Regions from separate parts of the Homo sapiens genome. Here region 1 is linked to region 2. A link means that fine-mapping ties the variant in region 2 to the expression of a gene that starts in the linked region. Tissue or cell type: whole blood. Region 2 holds a variant in brackets; the other region holds the start of a gene. All regions are shown on one strand. Distances are between the middles of the regions.

Evidence for each region. PIP is the estimated chance that this variant, and not a neighbour inherited with it, causes the effect.
Region 1: RFX2 starts here. The variant in region 2 is fine-mapped to the expression of RFX2 in whole blood (INTERVAL, PIP 0.94).

What each region holds. Positions count from the first base shown.
Region 1 is chr19:6,106,111-6,114,215 of GRCh38, forward strand. RFX2 (regulatory factor X2) reads right to left here and starts at 4,390. Exons shown (of 18, transcript NM_000635.4): 1 at 4,283-4,390. RefSeq lists an enhancer at 2,904-3,404 and a silencer at 4,252-4,711.
Region 2 is chr19:6,078,157-6,086,261 of GRCh38, forward strand. All of the region lies in intron 1 of RFX2 (regulatory factor X2), which reads right to left. Among named protein-coding and RNA genes, the nearest start is that of RFX2-AS1, 20 kb to the left of the region's middle. The variant C/T (reference allele first, on the strand shown) is at 3,659.

The sequences.
Region 1 (8,105 bases), 28 kb after region 2:
GGTCTTCCCCTATATTTTTTTTCCTGGGAGAATCCTTTTGCTGATCTTAGAGTTTCCAAGAAGCAAGTAGGTGGTTTTCAGTTTTTTCTCTAATTCCCAGTGTATATTCCATCGGCCTGCCCATCCATCCATCCATCCATCCATCCATCCATCCATCCAACAAAATAAGACCTTTCACTACACCAGGCATATGTCTACATGAGAGAACATGAGAACATGACCAGCAGAGGAGCTAATTGCCATTTAAATTCTAGAGACGGAGTCAAAACATCTTTTTAAAAAATACATAAGCCCACAACCCCTTACAACAATACTGAAATCCAGGAAACTCTGAAAACTGGCAATTTTTTTGTAAATTTGGCATGGACTCACTTGGTGACAAAAGCTGGCCTGAATTGACATGAAGTTACTTATGGTCCTTCTCTTCCCCACTTCGGGTGAATATTCATATAGTTCAGTTCAGAAATACGGCTGTGTTTAGTGGGAATGCCCTGGACCCATAGTTTCAGAGACAGGCCCACAGACTCGCATTCTCCTCCCCTGCAGTTTAGTGAGTGTCCTGACAAGCAAGATGAGAACTTCCCTTGGTTTTTCAAAAGTTTCCTATTTTACAAGTAAGTGGGTACCTATGGGGGTATACTGTTTAAATGTTTGTAAATATTTAAATATATTTGTTTTATATTTAACATATATTTATATTTAAATTTTATTATATTTAAATATATAAGTATATATTATATATACATGTTTTAATATTTCAATATATATTTTAAAAATATTTAAATATTTAATAAATAGATGTCAACTTTAGAAACAAATATATATTATAAGATGTGGTTCCTTCTGGCCCCAGCATTTTATGAGCAAAACAATCACTAGCTACTATAAAAATCCACAGGTGCCGGCCGGGCGCGGTGGCTCACGCCTATAATCCCAGCACTTTGGGAGGCCAAGGTGGGCGGATCACATGGTCAGGAGATCGAGACCATCCTGGCTAACACAGTGAAACCCCGTCTCTACTAAAAAATACGAAAAATTAGCCGGGCGTGGTGGCAGGCGCCTGTAGTCCCAGCTATTCGGGAGGCTGAGGCAGGAGAATGGTGTAAACCTCGGGGGTGGAGCTTGCAGTGAGCCGAGATGGTGCCACTGCACTCCAGCCTGGGAGACAGAGCAAGACTCTGTCTCAAACAAACAAACAAACAAACAAAAATCCACAGGTGCAGGGGCCGGGTTTGGTGGCTTACGCCTGTAATCCCAGCACTTTGGGAGGCCAAGGCGGTTGGATCATTTGAGGTCAAGAGTTTGAGACTAGCCTGGCCAACATAGTGAAACCCCATCCCTACTAAAAATACAAAAATTAGCCGGGTGTGGGGGTGCATGCCTGTAATCCCAGCTATTCAGGAGGCTGAGACAGGTGAATCCCTTGAGCCTGGGAGGTGCATGTTAAGGTGAGCTGAGATCTTGCCACTGCACTCCAGTCTGGGTGACAGAGTGAGACCCTGTCTCAAAAAAAAAAAAAAAAAAAAAAAAAAAATCCACAGGTGCATTTAAAATTTTGACTCGATTATAATATTAAAGTTAAGCCAATTTAATATTTTTATTAATTATAATGCTAATGTAAAACTAAACAATTAGATCTAAGGAATAAGACCCAGATAAACAATTCCCCAGCACCTGCATTTCTGGTGGACAGAACCATCCTTAGCAGTACTTCAATGATAAACAATGTTAAAAGATGAGTATTTACATTTAAATATACATCACATACACATTATATTATATTGTTGTATTTAAATATACATCACACATACATTAAGGTAATGCGTGCCCTTCACGCAGAAAGCAAAGATCAAGTGATTTCAAAGAACTTGTCCTGTTATTGAGGTAATAACTGTCTCTCTCTTCTCAGATTCAGTGGTTTATAAGAAAGAACTTAAAAAACTAAAATATTTCAGTATTGCTTTTCCTGCAGGAGCAAACTATTTCAGAACTCATTCCCAACCCAAGTCCGTTGAACTGTCACAGAATCACAGAACAGTGATCTTTCCCATCATACATTATAAGTTGCCTTCCGTACCACGCCTGTTGATGAAGAAGCCCTAGTAATTCAAGAACTTAAATTCTTTTCCTAGGGAGGTTACCATAAACTCTTACTTCTCTGGTCAGAGTAGGTGAGTTGTCGTTTCTAAGGTTATTTTAGAGTCAGTTCAAGTCTTTAAACTAGAGCAGGAGAAAGCACAGATGCCCCCCTCCTCCTTATCCAGAAGGACGGGAGGTAAGGATCTTTCCATAAGCAAACAATGTTTCAGGGCACGATGTAAAAAGATAAAATACATGTCAACAATATGTACAGGCAAAAATTTTTTTAAAAAGTCTTTGTTGTTTTGTGTCATTATTATTATTACTGTTACTTTGTTGGGGAACTCTTAGTTGAAACAGAGAATGAAGCTTGTACAAGGTTTGATACAGAGATGAAGCTGACTGAGAGGGAAAAGAACTCATCGAAGCCTGCGCTGGTCATTTATGATACAAAGCAGGAAAATAATTGCAGGGAGGCACAATGCTAACAACACCCCAAAGTAGGAATGAAGCCTGGGGGGGCGGGGGTAAGGCAGCCAGCCCTGGGTCCCGAGCTCCATCTTGCCCTCTCCCCTCCCCATTCTTGCCGCACAACCAGGAGGTTAAAATAGGAAGATGAACCGCGCCGGCAGCCGCCAGAATGGCCCGGGCGCTTGGGGCCCTCGGGGGCCCTTGAAATAGCCACTAGGATCGGGAAATCCAACTTTCCCAGCGGTGCAGCGAGGAAAACCAAAAGGAACGGAGCCGGAGGCTGGTGGCGAGGGAGCGCGGAGGCTTCTCGGAGGGAGGAAAAAGAAAGAAATGAGCATTTGGGGTGTGAGTGAGTGTGTGTGTGTGAGTGTGTGTGTGCGCCCGCGAGCGCGCTGGTGGGCGGTGGGGGCAGGGGGTGGAGTTTAAATCCACAAACACACACACGCACTCGCACTACCTCGGAGAAAATGCCTGGAGCAGTTTAGGTTCTTTAACAAAATAAATAAATTGAAAAAAAAAAAAAGTTTCACTCGCGTTGGTGAAACTTTTCTCCCTTCCAGATCAGTCCTAAGAGGAGAGCTGCGGACGTGCGGAGGGGCATCTTGGGGGCACGTGGAAAGACTGGCGGACGCACGAACCCCTATACTCAGGAATATGGGGTCACAGGGAGAAGGGGAGGGGGTGTCCGAGGCGACCTGAACGCGAGGATTTGGGGCAAAAAGGTGAGAAACAGTTCCCGGGGAAGCTCGCTCGGGGAGTTTGGGATGAAAAGGTGAGAAGGGCAAGAGGGGTTCTCCCCAGGGCAGACGCACCAGCTTTTAGTTAAGGAATGAGAAAAAGGTTCCAGGGGTGCCCCCAAATTCAGTATGTCTGGGAGTCCATTAAAAAGGGGGTCCCCGGGACAAGTCAGATCTAGGAATTTGGGGTAAAAATGAGAAGGGAGTCTTCGAGGTCCCCCCGATGCAAGAAGTTTGCGACTAAGAGTGACAGAAGGGCTCTGGGGTCACCCCAATTTCGGAGGTTTGGGGAGTAAAGTAAGAAGAGGGCCCCAGGTGGCCCCAATTCAGGGAGTTTGAGGGTATGAGTAAAAGAGGGGTCCCCGGGTGTCCCCATCTCAGAGATCTGGGGAGTAAAAGTGAGGAGAGGGTCCCCAAGCGCCCCCAATTCAGAGAATTCGAGGGTTTGAGTAAAAGAAGGGTCCCTGGGTGCCCCCAACTCAGAGATCTGGGGAGTAAACGTGAGAAGAGGGTCCCCTGGCGCCCCCAATTCAGAAAATTCGAGGGTATGAGTAAAAGAGGGGTCCTTGGGTGCCCCCAACTCAGAGATCTAGGGGGTTAAGGTGAGAAGAGGGTCCCCAAGCGCCCCCAATTCAGGGAGTTTGAGGAGTTTGAGAGACGTTCCCGGGGCGCCCCCAACTCAGCGAGTTTGAAGGTAAGCGTGAGAAAGGGGTCCCCGGACGCCCCAACCTCAGGAAGTTTTGTAAAAAGTGAGGCGACGGCACCGCACCTCCCCCGCGTTCAGTCAATAAGGAAAGTGGGGACGTCGCCAGGGTCCCCCCAAACTCCGCCGCGCGCGCGGACGGGGTGGCGGAGGCGGGTCCCGCGGGCGCACCACCCGGACGTTTGGGGTGAGCGGCGGGGACGTGCTGCCCGCCCCCCGGCCCCCGAACGGGGTCCCCGCCGCCCCCCACACTCCCCGGCCGGGCTGGGCCCGGGGCGGTCGCATCGGTCACCTGGAGTTCGGGCCGGGAGTTCGGGCAGCGGCTCCCGCGGCGGCGGCAGCGGCTGCTGCGTGTTGGTCCCCGTTGGTAAGTAACAGTCTCCACGGCTACAGTCTCTATGGCGGCGGCGGTGGCGGCGGCGGCCGCTCCTCCTCCGGCTCCCGCCGCCAGCCAGCCTCGCGCAGCCCGCCCGCCCGACGGGGCGGGGCGTTGTTACCGGCAACGGTTACCAGGCTCCGCGCCCCACCTTCCTAACGGCCCGCCCACGCTCGCCTCCAACGGGCCCCCAAGAGGGCGGGGCGCGAGACCCTACGGCGTTCCATTGGCTGTCTGCAGAGTCTGTCGGAAGGAGGAGGCGTTCCCCCTTGAAAAAGAGTGCGAGACTCGGCCAATGGCCGCGAAGAGGGGCGGGTCTTGGCGGGAGGCGCGCGCGGCTCAGAGGGTTGGCGAACCGGTCGCGCGCGCGGCGCCGTGGGTTGGTGGCGCGTTTTGGGAAAGTCCAGTTTTAGGGGACCCAAGGGACTCCGTTTACCCCACAGGAGGAGTGTGGGACATGTGGGAACAGTCTGATCAGGGGTCAGCAAACTCTCGCTCGCCGCCTGTTTTTCACGGACCCCCAGCTGAAAATTTAAATATATATATATTTTTTACATGGTTAAAAGAAACTATCGGCCGGGCGCGGTGGCTCACGCCTGTAATCCCAGCACTTTGGGAGGCTAAGGCGGGTGGATCACGGAGTCAGGAGATCGAGACCATCCTGACTAACACGGTGAAACCCCGTCTCTACTAAAAATACAAAAAATTAGCCGGGCGTGGTGGCAGGCGCCTGTAGTCCCAGCTACTTGGGAGGCTGAGGCAGGAGAATGGTGCGAACCTGGGAGGCGGAGCTTGCAGTGAGCCGAGATCGCACCACTGCACTCCAGCCTGGGCGACAGAGCGAGACTCCGTCTCAAAAAAAAAAAAAAGAAAGAAAGAAAAAAAAAGAAACTATCAAAAGGAGCTTTTGTGGGGTGTGAACCTGATAGGAGACTCTCTTTTATTGTATTGGGCCCAGTATTTTGAACTAGTTTAAAGATTGGCAAACTGCGGCCTGCGGGTCAAATTCTGCCTGCTTGGGTTTGTAAATAAAGCTTTATTGGAACATAGCCACGCCCATTTCCTTGAACAGCTTGGAAGGCTGCTTTGACACTACAGGGGCGGAGTGGAGTAGTTGCGCAAAGACGGCATGTCCCACGCGAAGCCTAAGATATTTACTATACGGTCCTTTACAGAAAATGTTTGCCAAACTCACCAGCCCTCCTCTCAAGCTGGTAGATTCAGCTACGAGTAGGACAGAAACAGACAGATCCTCATAGAACTTTTATTCTAGTGAGGGAACATTGACAGCAAACAGAATAAAGAGGTAAACATATAGTTATTCGAGACAAGGGGCTGGAAGAATAGGAGAAAACAACTTGTACTGAGAAAAGGCAGGAGATTAGGCTTCAGCCCCACTCATTCATTCAACAAGAAATCATATTAGTGAGCACTGATTAAATTGCTATGTGCCTGAAAGTGATCTAAGCATTTTTTAAATATGCAAACTCATTAAATCTTACAATCGCATCTTTAGAAAGATGCTAGGCATTATCCCCGTTTTTATTTGTTTTGTTTTTTCTTTTTTTTTTTTTGAGACAGAGTCTCTCTCTGTCACCCAGACTGGAGTGCAGTGGTGCGATCTGGCTCGCTCACTGCAACCTCTGTCTCCCGGGTTCAAGTGATTCTCCTGCCTCAGCCTCTCAAGTAGCTGGGACTACAGGCGCCCGCCACCACGCTCAGCTAATTTTTGTATTTTTAGTAGAGACGGGGTTTCACCATGTTGGCCAGGCTGGCCTGGAACTCCTGACCTCAAGTGATCCGCCCGCCTTGGACTCTCAAAGTGCTAGGATTACAGGCATGAGCCACCATGCCCGGCCTTTCCCCATTTTTCAGATCAGGAAGCTGAGGCCCAGAAAGAATGAGTGAATTTGCCCAGTGTCAAACAGCTTGTGAGGGATCGGAACCCTAGTAGTCTAGTGCCAAAGTCCATGCTCTTGATCACTAGATGGGTGGTTTTCAAACATTTTTGACCACAGCATACAGCAGGAAATACATTTTACCTAGGGGCTCAGTCCACACAAACATATCTATAACTAAAACAAATGATACTGTAACTAAAGTACCGTGAAATGATACTTTAACGCACTCTGATATTTCCTGTTCTGTTTCATTTTAATTAAAATGTTGACGGTGATTTGCTAAATTGATTTCATCATCTTCTAATTTTTTTTTTTTTCTTGAGACAGAGTCTCTGTCGCCCAGGCTGGAGTGCAGTGGCATGATCTCGGCTCACTGCAACCTCCGCCTCCCGAGTTCAAGTGATTCTCCTGTTTCAGTCTCCCGAGTAGCTGGCGTTACAGGCACGCGCCACCACGCCTGGCTAATTTTTGTATTTTTAGTAGAGACGGGGTTTCACCGTGTTGGCCAGGCTGGTCTCAAACTCCTGATCTCAAGTGATCCACCCGCCTCAGCCTCCCAAAGTCCTGGGATTACAGGCAGGAGCCACTGCGCCTGGCCATGTGACAGATTCTTAAGCTCAAGTGGTCTACAGTAATCAGTCCCTTTCATTCAATTATTAATTTAGTCAAAAATATTTATTGAGGTCCAAGTGCAGTGACTCAGCAGGAGGATCGTCTGAGGCCAGGGGTTCAAGACCAGCCTGGGCAACATAGTGAGACCTTATCTCTATAAAAATAAAATAAATTAGCCAGGCGCAGTGGTGCACACCTATAGTCCCAGCTGCTCAGGAGGCTGAGGTGGGAGGATCGCTTGAGCCCAGGAGTTCTAGGCTGTGGTGAGCTATGACTGTGCCTCTGAACTCCAGCTTGGTAGACAGAGCAAGAACCTGTCTCTAATATATATATATATACATTTATATATATACACACACATATATACACACACATATATGTGTGTATATATATAGTATATGATGATAGATAGATAGGTAGATAGATAGATAGATAGATAGATAGATAGATAGCGCCTACTATTTGCTAGGTGCTAGGGACACAGGTGTAAATAAAATAGATAAAATTCCCATGGCCATAGGAAAAGTGATACAGTAGTGGCTTGGTGGGAGAAGTGGGTGGGTGGGGCTTACCTTAGATAGAGCAGCCAGAGATGATCTCCCTGGGATATCCAACAATCCTGCTTGGCCCAAGACTAAGGGGTTTCCCAGGATATGGGAATTTCAGTGCTAAAACCGGGAAATCCCCAAAGCGGGAAGAGTTGGTCACCCTGGGTCTCTCTAAGGAGCTGACATTTGAGGCAACGTTGGAGTAACGAGGAACAAAGGAAAATAGTTTGGAATTCGAAATCCCTGGGGTGAAAGCTGATGTGGAAGAAACAGAAAGCAGGTCCTTGGGCACAGCTGGAGCCAATGAAAGGGGAAGAGCAGTGAGTGGGTGGGGTGAGTGAGTCAGGGGATGATATGATGGCCATCATTTTATTGGAGGCCGTAGGGAAGAAGTCACGATCAGACTGGGAAACCAATGGAGGGTGTCTTTTGTTGTTGTTGTTGTTGTTTGTTTTTGAGCTGGAGTCTTGCTGTATCGCCCAGGCCCACGCTGGAGTGCAGTGGTGCGATCTCAAGTTGTAGCCTCGGGGAGTAAGGTGACCGCCTGTCCTGGAACTGCTGGTCAACCCGTTTAGCTAAGCTAGACCTCTTCCCGCTCCCAGCCCTGGCCAGAGGCGGAAACTGTGGCCCCAGTTATCTCAAAAGACAAGCACAGAGTAGCAAAAGACAAGCCAACAG
Region 2 (8,105 bases):
TTCACAGTTGCCCGGGGCTGGGAGGAGGAAGGGCAAGTGGCTGTTCATGGCAGGTTCAGGGTTTCTTCTTCTTTTCGGAGTGATGAAAATGTTCTGTGAAGATAGTATACTAAGACCCACTGAACCATACACTTCAAATGGGTGAGCTTTACGGTATGTAAAACAGATCTCAGCACAGCTGTAAAAAAAAAAAAAAAAAAGGTATATTGACGACCTGTCCCCAGTGGCATTAGTTTAAGTCATAAAAATTTAGAAACAAATGTTCATCAACAGGAAAATCATTAAGTACCTTATGGTGCATCCTAGCTCTAAAACTATGCTGCCATTAAAAAGAAGAGGTACCGTCTCCAAGAAAGAAAGCCAACATCTGCAGTGCCTGGCACACAGTAGGCTCTCAAATATTTGCAGAATAAATTTATGTTGAAAAAACCCCAGCTATACATACTATAAAATAGGTAAAGGGGCCTTAAAAAGATCTAGAAGGACACAAGTTATATGACTAACAGTGCTTACCTCATATGAGGTGGGATAGACAGAAAGACGAAAAGAGAAATTTTCATTTCTGAATCTCCTGCTGTAGATGGTGGTCCTTCCCAGGAGAATGTTACTTGTATTACTTGCATATCATTTTATTTTTTGAGATGGAATCTTGCTCTGTCTCCCAGGCTGGGGTGCAGTGCACAATCTCAGCTCACTGCAACCTCCACCTCCCGGGTTCAAACTATTCTAGTGCCTCAGCCTCCCAAGTAGCTGGGATTACAGGCACATGCCACCATGCCCAGCTAATTTTTGTATTTTTAGTAGAGACGGGGTTTCACCATGTTGGCCAGGCTGGTCTCGAACTCCTGACCTCAAGAGAGCCACCTGCCTCGGCCTCCCAAAGTGCTGGAATTATAGGCGTGAGCCACGGCGCCCGGCCATTACTTGCATATCATTTTAAAAGTTGTAATTCATTGGTAAACATTCTAAGACATGCAGGTTCCTGTAAATTACCAAACTGTAATCCTGTAAATTACCAAACAGAATGGCTGTTTGTGCAGGGAGTATCACTGCGATTTAGTGTACTTGGTCTAGAGTATGCTGTCGCTCTTACAACCAGAGGTTTTCATGTTAATTCAACATCCATCATGAAGAGAAAATATACCAGACAAACAAACTGTGGTAGGATCACACAAGGACTGTGCTCCAGCAATAAAAGGAACAAACGACTGACACACGCAATGACAGAATGAATCCCAGAGGCATTTATGCCAAGTGAATGTAGCCAGTCTCAAAAGCTGCACAATGTATGTTTCCATTTATACGACATTCTGGAAAAGGCAGAGCTATAGAAAGGGACAGCAGATGGTGGCCAGAGGCTAAGAATGGGGCCAGGGTCTGACTACAGAGAGAGGTTGGACTTGCTCTCCATCCTGTTTGAGATGGAGGTTATAAGAATCTGTGCAAGTGGGCTGGGTGTGGTGGCTCACGCCTGTAATCCTAGCACTTTGGAAGGCTGAGGTGGGTGGATCACGAGGTCAGGAGATCGAGACCATCCTGGCCAACATGGTGAAACTCCGTCTCTACTAAAAATACAAAAATTAGCTGGGCATGGTGGCTCGTGCCTGTAGTCCCAGCTACTTGGGAGGCCGATGCAGGAAAATCACTTGAACCAGGGAGCCGGAGGTTGCAGTGAGCTGAGATTGCACCATTGCACTCCAGCCTGGCAACAAAGCAAGACTCTGTCTCAAAAAAAAAAAAAAAAAAGTATGCAAGTGTGAAAAACCATAGAACAGCAAACCTAAAAAGGCAAACACGACTGTATGTAGATTTAAAATATAAATTAAAAAAAAAAAAAGAAAAACCAGGTGCATCTACTGAGTGCCCAGCCCCATTCTAGGCTCTGAGGATTCTGTTTTTTTAGGGATGGGTCTTGCTCTGTTGCCTAGGCTGGAGAGTGCAGTGGCAAGATCACAACTCACTGTAGCCTCTAACTCCAGGGCTAAAGCATTCCTCCTGCCTCAGCCTCCTGTGAGTAGCTGGGACCACAGGCACATGCCTGGTTAATGTGTGTGTGTGTGTGTGTGTGTGTGTGTGTGTGTGTATGTGAGAGAGAGACAGAGAGAGAGAGAGAGAGAAGGTGAGGTCTTGCTTTGTTGCCCAGGCTGGTTTCGAACTTTCAGCTTCAAGCAATCCTCCCACTTTGGCCTCCCAAAATGCTGGGATTAAAACGTGAGCCACGACACCCAGCCTGAGGATTCTAAGGTGAGCAGGTCAGATGAAAGTGCTGCTCTCAGGGTGCCAGTATCCTTGTCAGGCAAGAATACACAAGGTTCCAGATACACAAGGTTGTTCAGTAGAGATCCGGGCTGTGGTGCAAGGTGATTGCAGAGGGATAGAGCCAGGGGTGGTGGTGGAGAGGGCTCCCCTCTTGATAGCCAGTTATGGGTGGCACTAAGGATGGCACTGAGCTGGGACCTGACAGCTGCAAAGAAGGGGCCAACCTTGGGAGGATGTGGGAGAGAGCAGCCTGGGCAAGAGGAATAGCTGTGCAAAGGTCTTGCAGCAGCAGAGGCCCTGGACAAGGTCAGATGTCTGGAGTTTTAAAATTCCAATTGCTGTCGGGGCTCAGTGGCTTATGCTTGTAATCCCAGCATTTTGGGAGGCTGAGGTGGGTGGATCATGAAGTCAGGAGTTTGAGACCAGCCTGGCCAACCTGGTGAAACCCCATCTCTACTAAAAATACAAAAATTAGCTGGGTGTGGTGATGCACGCCTGTAGTCCCAGTTACTTGGGAGGCTGAGGCAGGAGAATCACTTGAACCTGGGAGGTGAAGGTTGCAGTGAGTCAAAATCATGCCATTGCATACCAGCCTGGGCAACAGAACAAGACTCCATCTCAAAAAAAAAAAAAAAAAAAATCCAATTGCTAAGGGAAGCCCCAGGAGGCTCAACCCACAGGCACAATATAATCTGACTTACATCTTTTAAAAGAGCACTCTTCTTAGATTATAGACAGAAAGAGTGAATGCAGGAAAACCAAGACAAAGACATTCACTACTTTAAAAAAGTTCATAATAAGTCTGCTTCCCGGCCGGGTATGGTGGCTCACCCCTGTAATCCTAGCACTTTGGGAGGCCAAGGTGAGAGGATTGATTGAGGCCAACCAGGCCGAAAAGGAAGACCCTGTCTCTATTTTAAACAAATAAAAAGAATAATTAATTATGCTTCTAAGACCTGTCTGTGGAACCGGGGAAGGAATCATATCATTTTATAAACAAACCAAGTAACACTAAGCCCATTGCATGAAGGATTAAATAATTAAGCATTTAGTTAACATGAAAGTAAATGATGGCTTCTATACATTTTTAATGCAGGTAATTATACTCTCAGTAAATCATCACAGCACACAAACATTAGCATGCTTATTAATTCAGTGTTAATTGCTATTGGCTTACATGTACCATTATCCAAAAATTAAATAATTTGAGTGTACACTCACTTTTTTAAACAGGTACATATAAAGGTAGATGGAGGGCTGGGCGCGGCGGCTCATGCCTGGAATGCCAGCACTTTCAGAGGTCGAGGAGGGTGGATCACCTGAGGTCGGGAGTTGAAGACCAGCCTGGTCAACATGGTGAAACACCGTCTCTACTAAAAATACAAAAATTGGCCGGGCG[C/T]GTTGGCTCACGCTTGTAATCCCAGCACTCTGGGAGGCCGAGGCGGGCAGATCATGAGGTCAGGAGATCAAGACCATCCTGGTTAACACAGTGAAACCCCATCTCTACTAAAAAATACAAAAAATTAGCTGGGTGTACTGGTGGGCACCTGTAGTCCCAGCTACTCTGGAGGCTGAGGCAGGAGAATGGCGTGAACCTGGAGGCGGAGCTTGCAGTGAGCTGAGATCATGCCACTGCACTCCAGCACTCTAGCCTAGGCGACAGAGTGAGACTCCGTCTCAAAAACAAAACAAAATAAAACAAAAACAAAAACAAAAATTATCTGGGTGTGGTGGTGCACACCTGTAATCCCAGCTACTAGGGAGGCTACTAGGGAGGCTGAGGCAGGAGAATCATTTGAACCAAGGAGGCAGAGGTTGCAGTGAGCTGAGATCGTTCCATTGCATTCCAGCCTGGGCAACAGAGTAAGACCCTGTCTCAAAAAAAAAAAAAAAAAAAATGGTAGACAGGGGAAATGGACCAGATGTTGAATCTAGTTTGGTTATAGTCATTGCTGGGGATTAATATAGTAAGAGGAGGGTCCTTCTCTCCTGAATTGATGTCTATCAGGGGTTGGAAAGTTTTCTTTTTTTCTTTGAGACAGAGCCTTTCTCTGTCACACAGGCTGGAGTGCAGTGGCGCGATCACAGCTCACTTCATCCTCTAACTCCTGGGCTCAAGCCATCCTCCCACCACAGCCTCCCGTGTAGCTAGGACCACAGGCGTGCACCACCACTCTCAGCTAGTTTTTGTATTTTTTGTAGAGATGAGGTTTTGCCATGTTGCCCAGACTGGTCTTGAACTCCAGGGCTCATGGGATCCGCCCACTTTGGCCTCCCAAAGTGTTGGGATTACAGGTGTTAGCCACTGGAAAACTTTCTATAAGGGCCAGAAAATACACATTTTTGGCTTTGCAGGTCTCTGTTGAGACTACTCAACTCTGCCTCTGGACAGTAGGAGGAGTGAGTGTGGCCGCTGCACTCAGCGCTTTTCAGAGCCATGCTAGAGCCTGGGGCAAAGAGGAAAAAGAAGCAGCAGTGCTGATCCTGTCTTTATGTAAAATTTCAACATTTTGCTCATCATGGAATTTTTTTCCCATTATTTTTTTGAGACAGGGTCTCATTCTGTTGCCCAGGCTGCAGTGGCACAAACACGGCTCGCTGCAGCCTCAACCTCCCTGGGCTCAGGGAGTACGGGCACGTGCCACTACCCCCAGCTAATTTTTGTATTGTTTGTAGAGACGGGGTTTCACCCTGTTGTCCAGGCTGGTCTTGAACTCCTGGCCTCAAGTGATCCACCCGCCTTGGCTTCCTAGAGTGCTAGAATTACAGGCATGAGCCACTGTGCCCGGCCTTCATCATGAAATTTTTTGGCATTTATTTTGATTTTTTAAAATACTGCATTAAAACATTGTGTATCTTGATGACTGTGGATTTTTGTAGGCACTGCCTTAAATTTTGCATCCCAGGCGAGGGCCTCACTGCCTCATGCTAGTTCTGACCCTGGTGCTGGTGCTGTTCCAATAAATCTTTATTTATGGACACTGAAATTTAATTTCATATCATTTTCATGTGTCACAAAATATTTTGTCTTGTTTCCAATCATTTAAAAACGCAAAAAATATTCTCAACTCGTGGAAACTAAAAACAAAAATAAAAACCCACAGTAGTGTGCTAGATGTAGTCTGCTGACCCGTTTTTTTTTTTTTTAATTTTTATTCATTTATTTATTTATTCTGAGGCCGGGTCTTGCTCTGTCATCCAGGCTGGAGTGCAGTGGTGCAAACATGGCTCACTGCAGCCTCCACTTCCAGAGCTCAAGTGATCCTCCTGCTCAGCTTCCCCAGAAGCTGAGACCACAGGTATGTGCCACCATGCCCGGGTAATTTTTTAATTTTTTGTACAGATGGGGTCTCACCATCTTGCCCAGGCTGTGACCCCTATCTTGGATGGCCTTTGGGGGAACATGTCTTACTCATAATTATAGGCAGCGGAAAATGCCTGCTAGCGAGTAGGCACTCAAACGTGTCTGAATAATTTAGTCCCATTTTCTCCATTCTTAAATTACTGTTTAGGTTGCTTTACATTCTCTTCCCAGCCCCAGATCTCCAAATACAGGAGATGAGCACACGTGTCCAGGGCACCCCAGACCTCTTGGGCAGGGAGAATTCTCGGCAGAGAAGACCGGATATGGGAGTGTGGTGTGGGAATCGTCTGTGAGTGCTAAAGAACCGGTCCTCCACCTGCCCCAAGCTTTCCATTAGGCTCAAAAGCAGAGTTAGCCCAGTTAAGCGCATGGAAACTAAATGAGTTCGCTGTGCATTGTTCAGCTATACATGACCACAGGCAAGATAAATATTTAGGGTCTTTATTAAAGCTGTGATCCTCTGCTTTAGCAGGACAGCGTAGGGACTTACTAGAGGCAAACCATAAAAAGCATATGCCTCCTAGTAAAGTAATGCTGGGAAATATGACGAGTCAATTACTCTTTATCATTAATTGTGGTAAAATGTGCATAATGTACAATTTACCATTTTAACCATGTTTAATATACAGTTCAGTAGCATTAAGCACACTCACACTGTTGTGCAACCATCACCTCCATCCATCTCCAGAACATTCTCATCTTCCCAAATTGAAACTTTGTCCCCATGAAACACTCACTCCCTACCCCCTCCCCAGCCCCTGGCACCCACCATTCTACTTTCTGTCGCTATGGATCTGATGACTCTAGGGACCTCCTAGGGGTGGAATCACACTGGATTTGTCCTTTTTTTTCTTTCTTTCTTTCTTTTTTTTGAGACAGAATCTCGCTCTTGTTGCCCAGGCAGGAGTGCAGTGGTGCGATCTTGGCTCTCTGCAACCTCTGCCTCCTGGGTTCAAGTGATTCTCCTGCTGCAGCCTCCCAAGTAGCTGGGATTACAGGTGCCTGCCACCACGCCCGGCTAATTTTATATTTTTAGTAGAGGCTGGGTTTCACCATGTTGGCCAGGCTGGTCTCAAACTCCTGACCTCAGGTGATCCACCACCCACCTTGGCCTCCCAGAGTGCTGGGATTAGAGGTGTGAGCCACTGCGCCCGGCTGGATTTGTCCTTTTGTGTCTGATTTCTTTCACTGAGCATGATGTCCTTAAGCATAATGCATAATGTCCATGTTGCAGCCTGTGTCAGAATTTCCTTCCTTTTTCAAGGCTGAATAGTATTCCATTGTATAGATGGATCACATTTTATTTATCCATTCATTTGTTGGTGGACACTTGAGTTGCTGCCACATTTTAGCTATTGTAAATCATGCTGCTATGAACATGAGTGTACAAATCCCTGTCTGAGTGTACAAATACTGTTTTCCAAAGCAGCTACACTATTTTGCACACCTACCAACAGTTCACATGGGTTCAGTTCCAATTTTTCCATATTCTTATCAACATTTTTCTGTCTTTCTTCTTTTGGGTAACAGTCATCGTAATGGGTGTGAAGTGGTATCTTATTAGGGTTTTGATTTGCATTTCTGCAATGATAACTGGTATGAAGCACCTTTCCAACTGCTTATTGGCCATCTGAATATCTTCTTTGAAGAAAGAGAAATATCTACTCAAGTCCTCTGCCCATTAAAAAATTTTTTTGCTGAGTTACAGAAATTCTTTATCTATTTTGAATATTAACCTCTTATTAGAAATGATTTGGAAACATTTTCTTCCATTCCTTGGGTTGTCTTTTTACTCTGTTGCTACTGTTCTTTGATGCACAAAAGTTTTGAACGCTGATGGCCTAATCCTTCTGTTTTTCCTTTTGTCGTGAGTGCTTTTGATGTCCTATCCAAGAAATCATTGCCAGATCCAGTGTCATAAAGATGTCTCCCTATGTTTTCTGCTAAGAATTTTACAGTTTTAGCTCTTATGTTTAGGTCTTTGATCCATTTTGAGTTAATTTTTGTGTATGTTATAAAATAAAAGTCCTGGCTGGGCACAGTGGCTCACGCCTGTAATCCCAGCACTTTGGGAGGGTGAGGTGGGAGGATTGCCTGAGGCCAGGAGTTCAAGACCAGCCTGGGCAACATAGTGAGACCTCGTCTCTATAAAAAATTTAAAAATTAGCCTGGCATGGTGGCATATGCCTGTGGTCCCAGCTAGTTGGGAGGCAGAAGCAGGAGGATCTCTTGAGCCCAGGAGGCCGAGGCTGCAGTGAGCCATGATTGTACCACTGCACTCCAGCCTGGGTGATAGAACAAGATCCTGTCTCAAAAAAAAAAAAAAAAAAAAAAAGGCAGGGGAGATCCAATTTCATTCTTTTGAATGTGGAAACCCAGTTTTCCCAGCATCATTTATTGGAAAGACTGTATTTACCCCATCGAATGATCTTGGCACCCTTGCAGGAGTAAAATACGGCCATGAGTCGCTTCCTGACAGGGA